Homo sapiens: one gene and its partner. The protein of the gene in region 2 interacts with the protein of the main gene of each other region in a pairwise test. Each region holds a gene or a part of one and is shown on either strand. Other genes may lie near its edges.

Evidence for each region.
Region 1: the proteins of OLFM1 (region 2) and TRAF3IP1 interact in a two-hybrid assay, tested with the Homo sapiens proteins (2 studies listed by BioGRID and IntAct).

The regions. Positions count from the first base shown.
Region 1 is NC_000002.12:238,393,407-238,400,777, reverse strand, and holds part of TRAF3IP1 (TRAF3-interacting protein 1), read right to left. Parts: intron 3,320-7,371; coding exon 3,099-3,319; intron 2,025-3,098; coding exon 1,859-2,024; 3' UTR 1-1,858.
Region 2 is NC_000009.12:135,090,407-135,097,777, reverse strand, and holds part of OLFM1 (noelin isoform 4 precursor), read right to left. Parts: intron 1,915-7,371; coding exon 1,759-1,914; intron 1-1,758. UniProt on the Homo sapiens protein: Contributes to the regulation of axonal growth in the embryonic and adult central nervous system by inhibiting interactions between RTN4R and LINGO1. Inhibits RTN4R-mediated axon growth cone collapse.

The DNA of each region.
Region 1 (7,371 bases), on a different chromosome or scaffold from region 2:
GCAACCCCCAAACTCTATTCACATATACAAATTCATAAAAGGCAGACATCTCAACTTGAAGTAAAACAAGGTCCATTCAGGGTCATGGCTAAGTCATTTGATTCAGTAGAAAAGAGATTATAAATACATGAAGGGCTACTTAACTCATGTCCCTCCACTCCCCCAAAATGTATGTAATATAATCTGATCAAACAGAATTTTATGGTGCACTATAGGAAGGAGAAAAAGACCAGCGTTTCAGAATGGCAGATCTTAATAATCTGCTCCTGAACTTATTCAGCTCAGAAAATCATATAACAACCTGAGTACAGAATTTATTTTGGAAATTGTATGAAGAAAAACCCAACGGTGCCATTTGTGCTAATCCTTAAAGAAACAAAACCTGGCCGGGTGCAGTGGCTCATGCCTGTAATCCCAGCACTTTGGGAGGCCGAGGCAGGCGGATCACGAGGTCAGGAGGTGGAGACCATCCTGGTCAACACGGTGAAACCCCATCTCTACTGAAAATACAAAAATTAGCTGGGCATGGTGGCGTGCGCCTGTAGTCCCAGTTACTCAGGAGGCTGAGGCAGGAGAATCACTTGAACTCGGGAGGCGGTGGTTGCAGTGAGCCGAGATTGCGCCACTGCACTCCAGCCTGGGCGACAGAGTAAGACTCCATCTCAAAAAAAAAAAAAAAAGAAAGAAACAAAACCTTTTCAGGCAATCCTCACACTTTAAATGGCACTCCTCAGTTTACATAATAAATACACTATTTAAAAGTATTAGGACCCAGACCTCAAGACCCATAAGTATGTCTTCAAACACAATGAAATGTTTTATACAGTAACTTAAGACTCTGCTAAGTATTTACAATAGTATATGTAAGTGAAAAACTATAAACCATGTTTTTAAAAAACTTTTGCTTTAAAAAACAATTTCCAAAAAAATGGCTAACATCAAAAAACGTCGTAAATCAGTGCATCCTTTTAAGTCTTCCTTATGTTGTTTTTCCTAAGCTGCCTGTCTCTCGGTATGCACACCCATGCAAAGGAAAAGCCATGGCGCCAATGCTTTGCAGAGCGAGACCCTCTTAAGGAGAACAAGGACTCCGGGGGGCTGCGCTAGCCTCTGTCTGAGGAAAACCAGGGTAAACTGCGGAAGAAAGTGAGGATGTATGTCCAGACAACGTCCATAAAGGCCATCCTGAAATCTCCTTTTTAAATTTATGAACTTTAAGGACTAGAAACACAAGCAAACGATAGTAGAGATCAAGAGGAAAATTACATAGAGAAGTACATGCAATTACAAAGAGGTCAAAAAACAAAAATGAAAACAATCCAGTTGATAGGTACCTGATATGGAGACAGGCTGAGGTTAGCCCTTTCCATTGGAAATTAACTAAAAATATAATGTATTCATTTTCAGGCCTCATTCTACTTATCAAGTGCCTATCAAAAAGTACACAGTCATCCTTCATTCGGCACTGACCTCTGAAAGTCTTTCCACTAAACCAAAATAAAGGACTACTGTTCCCTTGGTATGCCCACACCACTTACCTGCTAGAGAGTTCTGGTACAGAACTAAACAGGTTACAGCAGAAACACAAAGAACAGGCTTTCAAAAAAACTTTTCACAGAGGTGTTTGGAAGCGCTATTTATAACTAGCCAGTATTCCATCTGGAAGGAGGTAAGAAAACATGGTTTTTTTAATACACTTAACATGCTTACAGTTTTAAAGCTCTGAAAATTAGCTGGATAATAACATTGTAAACTGTTCATTTTCTTAGCAAACTGGAACTTAAAAGAGTAATGATTTTCTATCTTCCTTTTTGCTTTTAAACTGAGGTGACTTTTCATCTCTGAAACTTTTGAGTGTTCACCTTCTCGAAGTCAAATTGATACTATATACCATTTTCTGGATTTTTTCTTCATTCTTGAGGATGTTGGCCTTCACAGCACAGATCTTGTCTTGCTGGTCTTTGATCAGCTGCTCCAGCTCCGCGAGCTCAGCCTTTAAGGGCTCCACGGCACAGTCTGTGATCCTGAGGGAGAACAAAACCAGCGGCTCATCACTCTCTCATCTCATTGTGTGTTGGCTTCTTAATTAAGACATTGAAAGACAACAGAAGTAAATTATTCGTTTCATCCAAAGAAAAGGATAATATTTATTTCTTATTTTCACAACCCCTGCTACAACCAAAAGTGAAGTCAAACATGAGATTTATAAAAGCAGCAGTTAATATTTCTTCAATGATAATCTTGAAGTCCTTAAATTACATACAGAACAACCTCTGGGACAAGGAGGTATGCAGCAAAGTCCCCATTGACTTTGGGGATCCCCCCTCCACTACCCCCCACCTATGTTCCTGCCGCAGGGCCTCTTCCCCATTACTGCCCCACTCCGCTACACCCCTACCTCTGCTCCTGCTGCAGGGCCCCCTCCCCATTACCCTCCTGCCCCACCCCAACCTGTTCCTGCTGCAGGGCCTCCTCCCCCATTACTCCCCCCACTCCGCTATCCCCTACCTGTGCTCCTGCTGCAGGGCCCCCTCCCCATTACTCCCTGCCTCTGCTACCCTTAACCTCTGCTCCTGCTGCAGGCCTCCTCCCATTATCCCCCTGCTCCCCCCCACCTCTCTCCTGCTGCAGGGCCCCTCCCCATTATCTTCCCCTCACCTCTGCTCCTGCTGCAGGGCCCCCTCCCCATTACTTCCCCTCACCTCTGCTCCTGCTGCAGGCCCCCCTCCCCATTACTTCCCCTCACCTCTGCTCCTGCTGCAGGGCCCCCTCCCCATTACTTCCCCTCACCTCTGCTCCTGCTGCAGGGCCCCCTCCCCATTACTACACCCCACCTCAGCTCCTGCTGCAGGGCCCCCTCCCCATTACTACACCCCACCTCTGCTCCTGCTGCAGGGCCCCCTCCCCATTACTACCCCTCACCTCTGCTCCTGCTGCAGGGCCCCCTCCCCATTACTACCCCTCACCTCTGCTCCTGCTGCAGGGCCCCCTCCCCATTACTACCCCCCACCTCTGCTCCTGCTGCAGGGCCCCCTCCCCATTACTACCCCCCACCTCTGCTCCTGCTGCAGGGCCCCCTCCCCATTACTACCCCCCACCTCTGCTCCTGCTGCAGGGCCTCGGCGTGCTGCCTGTTCTCGCTGTGCCACATCTGCAGCTCATTCTGCATGGCATCCACGTCTTCCTGGATGTAGTCCATGATCTTCCCCAGGGGAAGTGCGCTCTTGCACAGGGTCTGGATGGACGTGCGGAGCTTCTCTATCTCCTTGGAAACGATGTCCTTCTCCTTCTTCCATGCCGACTCAAAGAGAGATCGCTCCTACAGTCAGGGAGACATAGGAAGAGGAACACGCCTCCTCAGTCCAAAGGCAGAACAGGGCCGGTGCACTCAGCACACGGCCATGGGGCTGGGAGGAAAGGCGCAGGCAGAGACAGTGCTGGTTGTGGGACACTCACTCCCATGCAAAGGGAGAGCCATGCTGCCTAACAGAGTAACTCTGAAGTGCTGCACGCCATCAGAGGACACAGCACTGCCAGGGAGGGGCCGCTCCTTCCCTGCTCAATGGGGATGGGGGTCTGTCTTTACCTGGAAATCCATCTGAGGGCAAATCTCTATACAGGCAGATTTCAGTTCCCAACTAACAAGCAACTTTTGTAGCTATTGTTACAAGAGCTTAGTGACATGGAAGATTTTTCCCAAATGGACTGGCAGAATGAGGGCCTGACCCTACAGCTCTTCAAATGGCCCACCTTCCATCCCAAATGACTTCAAAACCCAGCTTGCCAGGGGGCAAGGGGAAAGAAACCCAAAGGAGAGGCAGAAACTGGTGCCATGGAAAGGAGGGCATGGAGAATGTGCAGGGCAGCCAGCGCCAGCAGCAGCCAGCAGCAGCCAGCAGCACCCAGCAGGCAGATGGTCAGGTCGACTTAGACGTGACTGTGCTGGCCGCTCAGGGAGGCCACAGAGTCCAGGGGTCAGGGGCCAGATGGAAGGGGTCAAGTTGAGACAGCAGCAGGTGAAGGAGGTGAGGAGGACGCAGAGACGAGTGGGGAGCTGCATGCGGTTTGGGCCAGGAGTTCTTGGGTTCTTTGCCATGCAACATTTAGAATTCTCTTCATATGAGCTTTGATCACAGACATCTCTGAATGTCAGAAACTGATGTGAGTTGATAAGAATCAATAAGCTTGGGAAAATTAACATCAGTTCTTTCTCCTTCTTTCCTTTTTTTTTTTAATTTTTTTATTATTATTATACTTTAAGTTTTAGGGTACATGTACACAATGTGCAGGTTTGTTACATATGTATACATGTGCCATGTTGGTGTGCTGCACCCATTAACTCGTCATTTAACATTAGGTATATCTCCTAATGCTATCCCTCCCCCCTCCCCCCACCCCACAACAGGCCCCGGATTGTGATGTTCCCCTTCCTGTGTCCATGTGTTCTCATTGTTCAATTCCCACCTATGAGTGAGAACATGCAGTGTTTGGTTTTTTGTCCTTGCGACAGTTTGCTGAGAATGATGGTTTCTAGTTTCATCCATGTCCCTACAAAGGACATGAACTCATCATTTTTAATGGCTGCATAGTATTCCATGGTGTATATATGCCACATTTTCTTAATCCAGTCTATCGTTGTTGGACATTTGGGTTGGTTCCAAGTCTTTGCTATTGTGAATAGTGCCGCAATAAACATACGTGTGCATGTATCTTTATAGCAGCATGATTTATAATCCTTTGGGTATATACCCAGTAATGGGATGGCTGGGTCAAATGGTATTTCTAGTTCTAGATCCCTGAGGAATCGCCACACTGACTTCCCCAATGGTTGAACTAGTTTACAGTCCCACCAACAGTGTAAAAGTGTTCCTATTTCTCCACATCCTCTCCAGCACCTGTTGTTTCCTGATTTTTTAATGATCGCCATTCTAACTGGTGTGAGATGGTATCTCATTGTGGTTTTGATTTGCATATCTCTGATGGCCAGTGATGATAAGCATTTTTTCATGTGTTTTTTGGCTGCGTAAATGTCTTCTTTTGAGAAGTGTGTGTTCATATCCTTTGCCCACTTTTTGATGGGGTTGTTTTTTTTTTGTAAATTTGTTTGAGTTCATTGTAGATTCTGGATATTAGCCCTTTGTCAGATGAGAAGGTTGCGAAAATTTTCTCTAATTTTGTAGGTTGCCTGTTCACCCTGATGGTAGTTTCTTTTGCTGTGCAGAAGCTCTTTAGTTTAATTAGATCCCATTTGTCAATTTTGGCTTTTGTTGCCATTGCTTTTGGTGTTTTAGACATGAAGTCCTTGCCCATGTCTATGTCCTGAATGGTATTGCCTAGGTTTTCTTCTAGGGTTTTTATGGTTTTAGGTCTAACATGTAGTCTTTAATCCATTTTGAATTGATTTTTGTATAAGGTGTAAGGAAGGGATCCAATTTCAGCTTTCTACATATGGCTAGCCAGTTTTCCCAGCACCATTTATTAAATAGGGAAACATTTCCCCATTGCTTGTTTTTGTCAGGTTTGTCAAAGATCAGATGGTTATCTTCTTCCCTTTCTTTCTTCTCTCTCTCTTTCTTTACAGCCAGGGTCTCACTATGTTGCCCAGGCTACTCTCAAACTCCTGGGCTCAAGTGATCCTCCTGCCTTGCCCTCCCAAAGCGCTGGGATTACAGATGTAAGCCATCATGCCCTGCAACACTGTTTCTTTAGGAAGCCCTCCCTGGACACCCCCCCACCCACTCCAGACCGGTAAGGGGCCCTTCCTTGCCTCACCCACTTACAGAATGAGCTAGTAAATGCACTCAGTTGTAACAAATCAACTTATTTAATTTGAACGTATCATAGCTACATATTCACTTGCATTACTTCTGCTAGTTTCAGACTGTGGGCTCAGGAGGGCAGGACCTTGTGCCTAGATTCACTGTGATTCACATAAGCTCTGCCTAAGAATTTGTGAAATGAACTAATGAAGTGGATAAATGATTTATGTATGAAGATCCTAGTTCCACCATTTACTGGCTTGGACAAGTACAAGAAAGCTTTAGCATAATGCCTGGCACATAGAAAGTGTTAAATAATTGGGACTTTAAGTAAAACGTAAAACTCATACAACTAATAAGTGAGTTCAGCAAGGTTGTAGTATACAAGATGAGCATATGAAAATCAACTATATTTCTATGTATGAGCAATGAAAACATGGACACTGCAATTAAAAATACAATGCCATTGACAATTGTTCAATAGAAGACTATCCTTAGTTGTAAATCTAACAAAACATGTATAGGACTTGGAAATGGAAAACGAAACAATGCAGATGAAAGAAATCAAAGGAAATCTAAATAAATGAGAAGACACACTGTGTCCATGGAATGGAAGACAGGACACAGTAAAGACATGAATTTTCCCCAAACCGATACGCATGTTTAATGCAAATCCTACCAAACTTGCAGCCAATGTTTTTGTATAGACAAGATTATCCTAAAATGTATACAGAAAGGCAAAGGAACTACAATAGCTAAAACATTTTCAGAAAAAGAATAAAGACAGAAATAACCAGTCTACCCAATTTCAAGGCTTTTTTTTGAAACGGAGTCTCACTCTGTCGCCCAGGCTGGAGTGCAGTTGTGTGATCTTGGCTCATTGCAACCTCTGCCTCCCAGATTCAAGCGATTCTCCTGCCTCGGCCTCCCAAGTAGCTGGGATCACAGGCGCACACCAGCATGCCCAGCTAATTTTTGTTTTAGTAGACATGGGATTTCACCATGTTGGCCAGGTTGGTGTCAAACTCCTGAGCTAAGGTGATCCTCCCATCTCGGCCTCCCAAAGTGCTGGGATTACAGGTGTGAGCCACCGCGTAGGCTTCAAGTCTTTTTATACAATTACAGTAATCAAGACAGTGCAGTATTGACAGAGGGACATAGATCAAATGAACAGAACACAGAATCCAAAAGTAGATCCATACGAATATGTCCATATGCCCAAGCAATCTTTGACAAAGGTACAAAAGCAATTTAGTGGCAGAGAGAGCTTTGCACCATTTGGCACTGGGTTAAGTGGACATCCATAAGCCAAAAAACAAACAAAACGTTGACCTAATCTCATATCTTAAACAAAAATTAACTCGAAATGGACTATGGATTTAAATATAATCTATAAAACTTTAAGATAAAAAACACAGGAGGAAAAAGTCTTTGGGATCTAGGACTAGGCAAAGAGTTCGAAGACTTGACACCAAAAGCATGACAAAAATTTCAAATGTTTGCTCTGCGAAAGACCCTGGGAAGAAGCCGCAAAGGTAAGTCACAGAATGAGCAAAAACAACTGCAAATCACACATCCAATAAAGGACTTATAGCTAGAATATGCAAAGAAC
Region 2 (7,371 bases):
CAAGTAAGAAAATGAAATACCGTTGAAGAACTAGCTCACTAGCCTGCCTGAAACAGACAGCCATCAGGAAACACATATTTGCATGGTCAGTTAGAAAAATCCCACTGTAATGCTCGAGTTAGTCAAAACAAACTGCTTTAAGAGTTATTGAGATTCCCTCGTCACAATTTCTGTTGGAATTTTTTTAATGCGGTTTAGCACAGTATAGGCAAGCGCTTGCTTTTCTTCCCCCAGAGCCACAGCACCCCAAAATTGGAAACTCGGAGAGATGCCTGTGTCAACAACGTTTGCCAAGATGAGCTACCTCCCAGTTGCTGAAGACACCCCCCTCGTTAGAGGAGTCTGCTGGCCGCAGAGAAGGGAGTGCTGGCTCAGAGACATAAATGCTTTTTTGGTTAGACAGGTCAACATCTCTCCCTCCAGAGTAATTCATGATGACCAGCCAGATGCGAGGACAAAAATGTCCAACTGCCTCTGATGAGCACAATCGGCTCATTTCACCTCAACAGGATTGGGCCTGCTATTATTTTATTTATAATATAGATTTATAATTTCATTAGCTTGCCATTTCATCTATTTAATGTATCATTTTTAAAAGAGAATTAGTTCTTGCCTCATGCAGGGAGCACATCGAAGAAAAACATTAGCATAAAAAGGACGGGAAGACAGAGACAGAGTACACCAGCAGTTTCTAGTCGGGCGAGGCTGTGTAATTTGACCTGTTCATTTACATCTGGGCTGGATTTCTAATTAAAATGCATGTATACCTTCATTAAGGCGGCATATAACGTTTCAGTCGAATCGCACTGAGATGGAGTCAACTGTGGGCATCTCTCTACCTGGCTGCACATCTGTATCTATGATTTTAGGTCAAACAAACACCAGTTTTAATGTCCAGAGTTACCCGGAGAAGCAGAACACTTCCCACGAGGTGGAAAGGAGGCTGGCATCTCTCTCTTTTTTCCCTGCAAGTCTATGGTATGCTTTGTCATGGCTAGATTAGGTCAGATGTGAAAACTGCCCTGAGAGATTCCTGCTCCAGAATGGCCCTCATCAATTCAGCTAATCTTTGGCTAATGTGATTTACCTGCAGCAGCTGCAGAATGACAAGGGCCAATAACGATGTCCCTTCCCAGCTAATATTCGACTTGGCTCGGGCAGCGCAGGATCTCAGACCCCTGGCTTCCAAACCACACTGACGGGGGCTTGGGGGCGAGTGTATGCTGCTGCCACCACTCAGGCCGCCCCTGTCAAGGTGGCTTCTGCCAAGCCAGGGCCAGTGGTGGCCTCCCTACTGCCAAGGGCAACAGTCCTTTCAAGGCACAGAACAACCTTTGCTATGCTTCTCCCTGCCCCAAATGACCATTTCTGTAGGGAAAGGGAGAGCATGAAGGGAAAGCACACCCAGCCTCAGAGGAGGAGAAGAAGGAGAGGGAGGAGGAAGAGGAGGAGAAGAAGGAGAGGGAGGAGGAAAAGGAGGATGAAGAGGATGAGGGGGAAGAGGAGGAGAAGAAGGAGAGGGAGGAGGAAGAGGAGGAGAAGAAGGAGAGGGAGGAGGAAGAGGAGGATGAAGAGGGGGAGGAGGAGGAAGAGGAGGAGAAGAAGGAGAGGGAGGAGGAAGAGGAGGATGAAGGGAGGAGGAGCAAGAGGAGGAGAAGAGGAGGAGGAAGAAGAGAAGGAGGAGAGGAGGGAGGGGAAGGAGGAGGAAGAGGAGGAGGAGGAGGATAAGGGGAGGGAGAGGGGGAGGAACATGCATACCTTAAACTGCCTGGCCAGGTGTTGCTTATGACTCTCCTCCACCTGTTTGAACTTGGACTCCAGTCCTTTCATTTGGTTCTCCATCTTCTCCACGTACTGCAAGTCTCTCTGGGTCCGCCTGTCCAAGACCTCTATGGATTGAGACATGTTCTGCACCTGTCAAAAGGGCAACAGGTTCAGCAAAACAGCCGCAGTAGGTGCCAGGCAATCTTCTCTGCCTGCTCGTACAGACATTGCCCTTTCCCACACAGCCAGCACACTGGGAACCAGAAGTGGCCCATGCATTATTTACAAGGTAATCGCCAGCATCGCGGACTGTGAGGACTGATAACTCCCCAAACACAGCAAATTGGTTGGGTAAACATTTTCTTTGCCAACCTGTTCTTATCATCAGGGATGCAAATCAGGGGTGTAGGAGACTCAAGTTCCGTTATTCGCTGTAGCTCCAGGCACAGGCTGGGTGATTTCTCTTGATCTCTCTCTCTCTCTTTTTTTTTTTTTTTTGGTAGTGGTGGGTGGGGATTGTTCCTAGTCTTTCTGTTGCAGGACAACATTAGTTAGGCAAGCATAAACACCAGCAGAGAGGAATGGCACTCTTAGGCTGCCCCGCCCCCAGGTATAAATTCTCCTTCTTCCTAAATCTCATTGACTGTCTTGCTGATAAGGTTGATTACTTAAGTGCAGAGTGAAGGAACAAGGGAGCTGCTCTCCCTGACTCTGCATCAAGCTTTTTTCCCTATCTGCTATGCCATCCATCACACCCCACAGTATCATAGGTAGATGACTGCTCTGCAAACATGTACATTCTGAGCATAGAGTCAGGAATCAATCACCCAGCAAATGAAGAATCGCTGTTTTACATCTTTACAGGCAGATCTGAATTGAGTCTAGCCTCAAGATGGAACTTTAATATTCAACAGGATTCCAGGGAGCTTAAAAGAAAAACAGTTTTAGTGCAGCCACCTGCCAGTGCATTTTATTTGCAGGAAACTGGTGTGTGCTTCTGTGCAAATGCATTCGGGGCTGCGGGGAGGCGGGAGGAAGCTGAGGATTGCTGCAGTGGTGTTTGGGTCATTTTCTCAGAATCTAATCCAATTACTAGAGAGGAAGTTACCTCCATGACAGCAAATCTTCACTCCTGACTTTTCTGCTGAATTTGAAAATACTCTCCCTTCTAGGAACAAAATCATTTGGGGATGAGGCTTAGCTTTGCCGGTCAGTGTGAAAAGAGGACAGTGTGGTTTCTACTTCTTACTATACATCCTCCACCCCGCCAAATAAAGTAAAATACAAGAGAGCAAACCAAGCCTCCTCAGTAGAAGGAAAACCACTATTGCCAATCTCAGCACCCCAAAATGCAAGGAATTTCATATCTTGTTATCAGAAAGTAACACACACAAACTCATCTTGAAATTTTAAGTTTGTAAAGTACACGACGGGGTGGCTTCAGCTCCCTCTCACCCCTTCTCTTCCCCGAGAAACGGAAGCATACCTCTAATACCACCTGCCTGATTCTCTTGTTGTCTTCCTCTGTCACTTTGAATAACTACAGCACCTTTTTCAAGAAAAGATGTAAAGTTTGTCTATATTCGTCCTTCAAGGCCCAGCCCAAATGCCACCTCCTCCAGGGAGGCTTCTCTGATGGACTGAGTTAAAACTAGCTGCAAACTATTTGGAAACAACAACGTCACTTTGTTGGCACAATGTCTGCCTAGGAGTGAGCCACACAGCTGTCCCCCCACAGCTTTCCGGACAGGATGCTCATGGGGGGAGTGACACTGGGTCTCATCCACATCTGTAACCCCTGCACAAAGTCCAGTAAATCTAGTGCACGGGAGTAGCTCCTGCAGCCACATGGCCGGAGGAAGCAACAATACAAATGGCGGCGCCAGTCCAGACCCCTCTCTCCATTCCCCTCCTGGCAAAATCCCCAGGAGCGAAGGCCCACAAGTGCCGAGGAGAAGCTGCTGAGCTCATGCTGGCCTCAGTCAGGAGACCACACACGGTGCTGTAGGCTTTTTGCTCCCCAGAGAAGGAATGCTTTTAAAAGATTTCAAAGATTAGACTTTAGATTTAAAAAACAAATTTTAAAGATACCAAGCTATTCAGCTGCCTTAAAACCAAACAATTACTCTCCTATAGTTCTCCTAACCCTGAATGCACTTTCCTTTCTGGCCATGGACAAGGCACAGGCACAGGTCTGCCTCCAGCTCACAGTCAGTCTAGGACTGCAATCACGCACCCATCTCCCAACCCTAGGGAAGGCATTCCTCTGAGCACAGCCCTTCCTCTGAGCACCTTCATTTTCTTGCCTGCAGGATGTGTCTCTGAGGAGCCAACTGGCAGGCTCAGGGTCACAGAGCTACGGGATGACAGTCTATCCCACACCCTACCCAACGGGGCAGCAGGCATTAAGAAGCGGGAGGGGGGCCAGCAACACACAAAGACACACCTGGCCTCAAGATAACTAACAGCTAATAATTATCCATCCTTTCCCATGTTCCAGGCACTGCACTGAGTCTGCTGTGTTATTTATCTCATTTGATCTTTACAAAACCCCGGGAAATGAATAAGTACTATTTTGAGTCCCATTTTACACATAGGGAGACCAAGGCTCAGAGAAGTTAAGCAACTTGCTTACTGTCACCCAGCCAGGAGGCCTGCCAGTTCAAGCTGGACTGGCTCCAAAGCCTACACTCTCAAACCCAGAGCCAAGTGCTTCTTCAAAGAGAACGGAGCCCGTGCCACACGCCTGCCACTATCTGTGTCCCTACAGTGCTCGACCCTAGCTGCATGGAACTACCTGGTGAGGCTTCCAGGGCTGTACATACCTGGGTTCCCCACAGGGACCCCAGGGCAACAGAAATCAGAGACTCTGGAGGTGGGGCCTGGGACTCAGTACCTTGCAGCCTCACCAGGTGGGTTAAAGGTGAAGCCAGGGCACAGAAATACCGACCTGGCTGGAATATGCTCAGCTGTGACCCAGCCCTATCAACAGGGCACATGGGCTGAGGTTTCTGGAGCACCCTGTCCTGCTTCTGCCCATGAAGAGAAAGCAAGAGAAGAAAAGAGAAAGAGGAAAGAAAGAAAATAGCACACAGGCCAGGGTGTGCGGGGGAAGCTGAGGACGGAGCAGCGCTGCCTCCTGCTAAAATGCACAGTGCATTAAGGAGCAAGGGCCCTCTTTCATAGCAAATGGCTCATGCCCTCTGAAAATAGAGTGCCCGCTATGGTATCAAATGGGGCTTTAAATTTTTAAGCAGTAATGCTGTGGCACGCACAGGCAGGAAGGAACATTCCAGGGCCTGCAGTCCCAGGGGCTCATGGAGCATTCTGGAATCCATTTCCCAACTCTCTGCTCTCCCCGCAAATGCCTCCTCCCTGGGCTCAGGGCTCTGTTTTCCCCTCCTGACTCTCGCCGGCCCCCACAGCCCAGAGGCCCCTCCAAGTGCCGCCTCCCCCATCTAAGCTTCTGAATAATTAAAGGCTCAGTTAGGCTTTGGTCTAGTTTGGTGTTAATAAATGTTGGTGGAATGTTAAATGTATCTTACTTTAATTCTTTTAAAATGATTTACTCAGGTGGCTAAAGAAAAAACAAATTCTATTCCTTCAAGGTGAGCGTGCTTTACGAACTAGGCCAGTTGCCCTGCGTACCATGATGCATCCTTCTTGCCCAAGAAACAAGGGTCCTGTGGCCATTCCAGACAGGGACTGGGACACAGAACAGGCAGTGACTCGGACCTTTCAAGGCCCGTCAGAGCTGGGTGGGCACTCGAAACCTCTAGCCCACCCTCTCCTTCTCCAAGGAAGGGGACTTGCTTTGTCTCGAGCTTCCTGAGGGTTTGTGGTTCAGCACCAGGAATGTGGACCCGAGTCGGGTCAATGCTGTCCTCTCACCAGGCTGCTCCCACCTTCCCCAACGAGGTGGGCAGTGACAGCACCATCTGTCCCCCCAGCACGGAGCCAGCCCTGAGTCACAGAGGCCCCCCGCCCCTCACAGGCCTCCTGCCATACTCCTGAGCTGACGCCCATTCCAGAAAGTCCAAGGCCAACCTGCAGGAAGAGTCACGGCTTTACTATTGTGTGTGTGTGAACGTGTGTGACTATGTGTGTGTGTGTGTGACTATGTGTGAGTGTGTGTGTGACTGTGTGTGAGTGTGTGTGACTATGTGTGAGTGTGTGTGTGACTGTGAGTGTGTGTGACTATGTGAGTGTGTGTGACTGTGTGACTATGTGTGAGTGTGTGTGTGACTGTGTGAGTGTGTGTGACTATGTGTGGGTGTGTGTGACTATGAGTGTGTGACTATGTGTGAGTGTGACTGTGTGTGTGTGAGACTATGTGTGAGTGTGTGACTGTGTGTGTGTGACTATGTGAGTGTGTGTGACTATGTGAGTGTGTGTGACTGTGTGACTATGTGTGAGTGTGTGACTGTGAGTGTGTGACTGTGTGTGTGTGTGACTATGAGTGTGTGACTATGTGAGTGTGACTGTGTGACTATGTGTGTGTGAGACTGTGTGAATGTGTGTGTGACTATGTGTGAATGTGTGTGACTGTGTGTGAGTGTGTGTGTGACTATGTGTGAGTGTGTTTGTGAGTGTGCGTGTGTGTGGTGTGACCCCACTCCCTCAGGGTGGGAAAGTTCCCTGCCCATAGGCACTACATGCAAATGCACCTTTCTTCTGGGGAATCAATGGGTGGAACAGAAGGGCCCACCATTCCTCCTTGTTCCCTTGGTAACTCTCCTATGGGGCCCCCAGAACCCAGGTTAACCACAGAATACGGGGTCCTTGGGTGGAATGTGCCAAAAGGCTGGTGGGCTGTGCCCATTAGGAGAAGGCCCCCTGACTAAAGTGGGGAGTGGAGGAGACTGAACCAGGTGATGAGCTCGGCCATGTGGGTCCGAGTGCCCACTTCCCTACTAACAGCTGTTTGGCTTGGGACAAATAAGTCCACCCCTTGGGAGCCAAATTTCCTTTTCTTGAACTGGAGTGAAAAATCTCACCAACTTCACATGGTTCTTGTGAAGATTAAGTGAAATAACGGATTCAAAATATGTTATGCAAACGACATATGCAAACCTGCTGTTCCCATGTGGTTCTGAAGGTGACAGCATGGCCTGCTTTAGCCCCAGGAAGGCATTCATGGTGATGAGCACCTGTCCAGCCACTGGCCAGGTACAACCATTCAAGGGCAGAAAAAAGATCTCATCTCGTAAAATCCAAATGGCCATGCATTCCTGGGCCTATGGGCGCTCTCCAAGGTAGCTGCTGGGTGACAGCCCCAGCCCTGTGCACACAGATTATGACATCACTCAGAGACGAGCCTTGTGTCCCGTCTCACCATGCCCATGTGACTTCTCAGTGGAGCCTGTGGTGACAGGGGGCAGGTCTAGTCCTCTCTTCCTGGACCACCCTTGGAAGTCTCAATCCACCTGTGTGTCCACCCACCCATCCACCCATCCGTCCATCCATCCACCCACCCATCCACCCATCCGTCCATCCACCCTTTCACTCATTCACAAATATTTTGAGTGGAGACAAACCAGGAAAGAGTCAAAATGGGGCCTGCAAGCTAGCCAAGCCTTGGTGCTGGTGTGAGCACACAGGCATGTA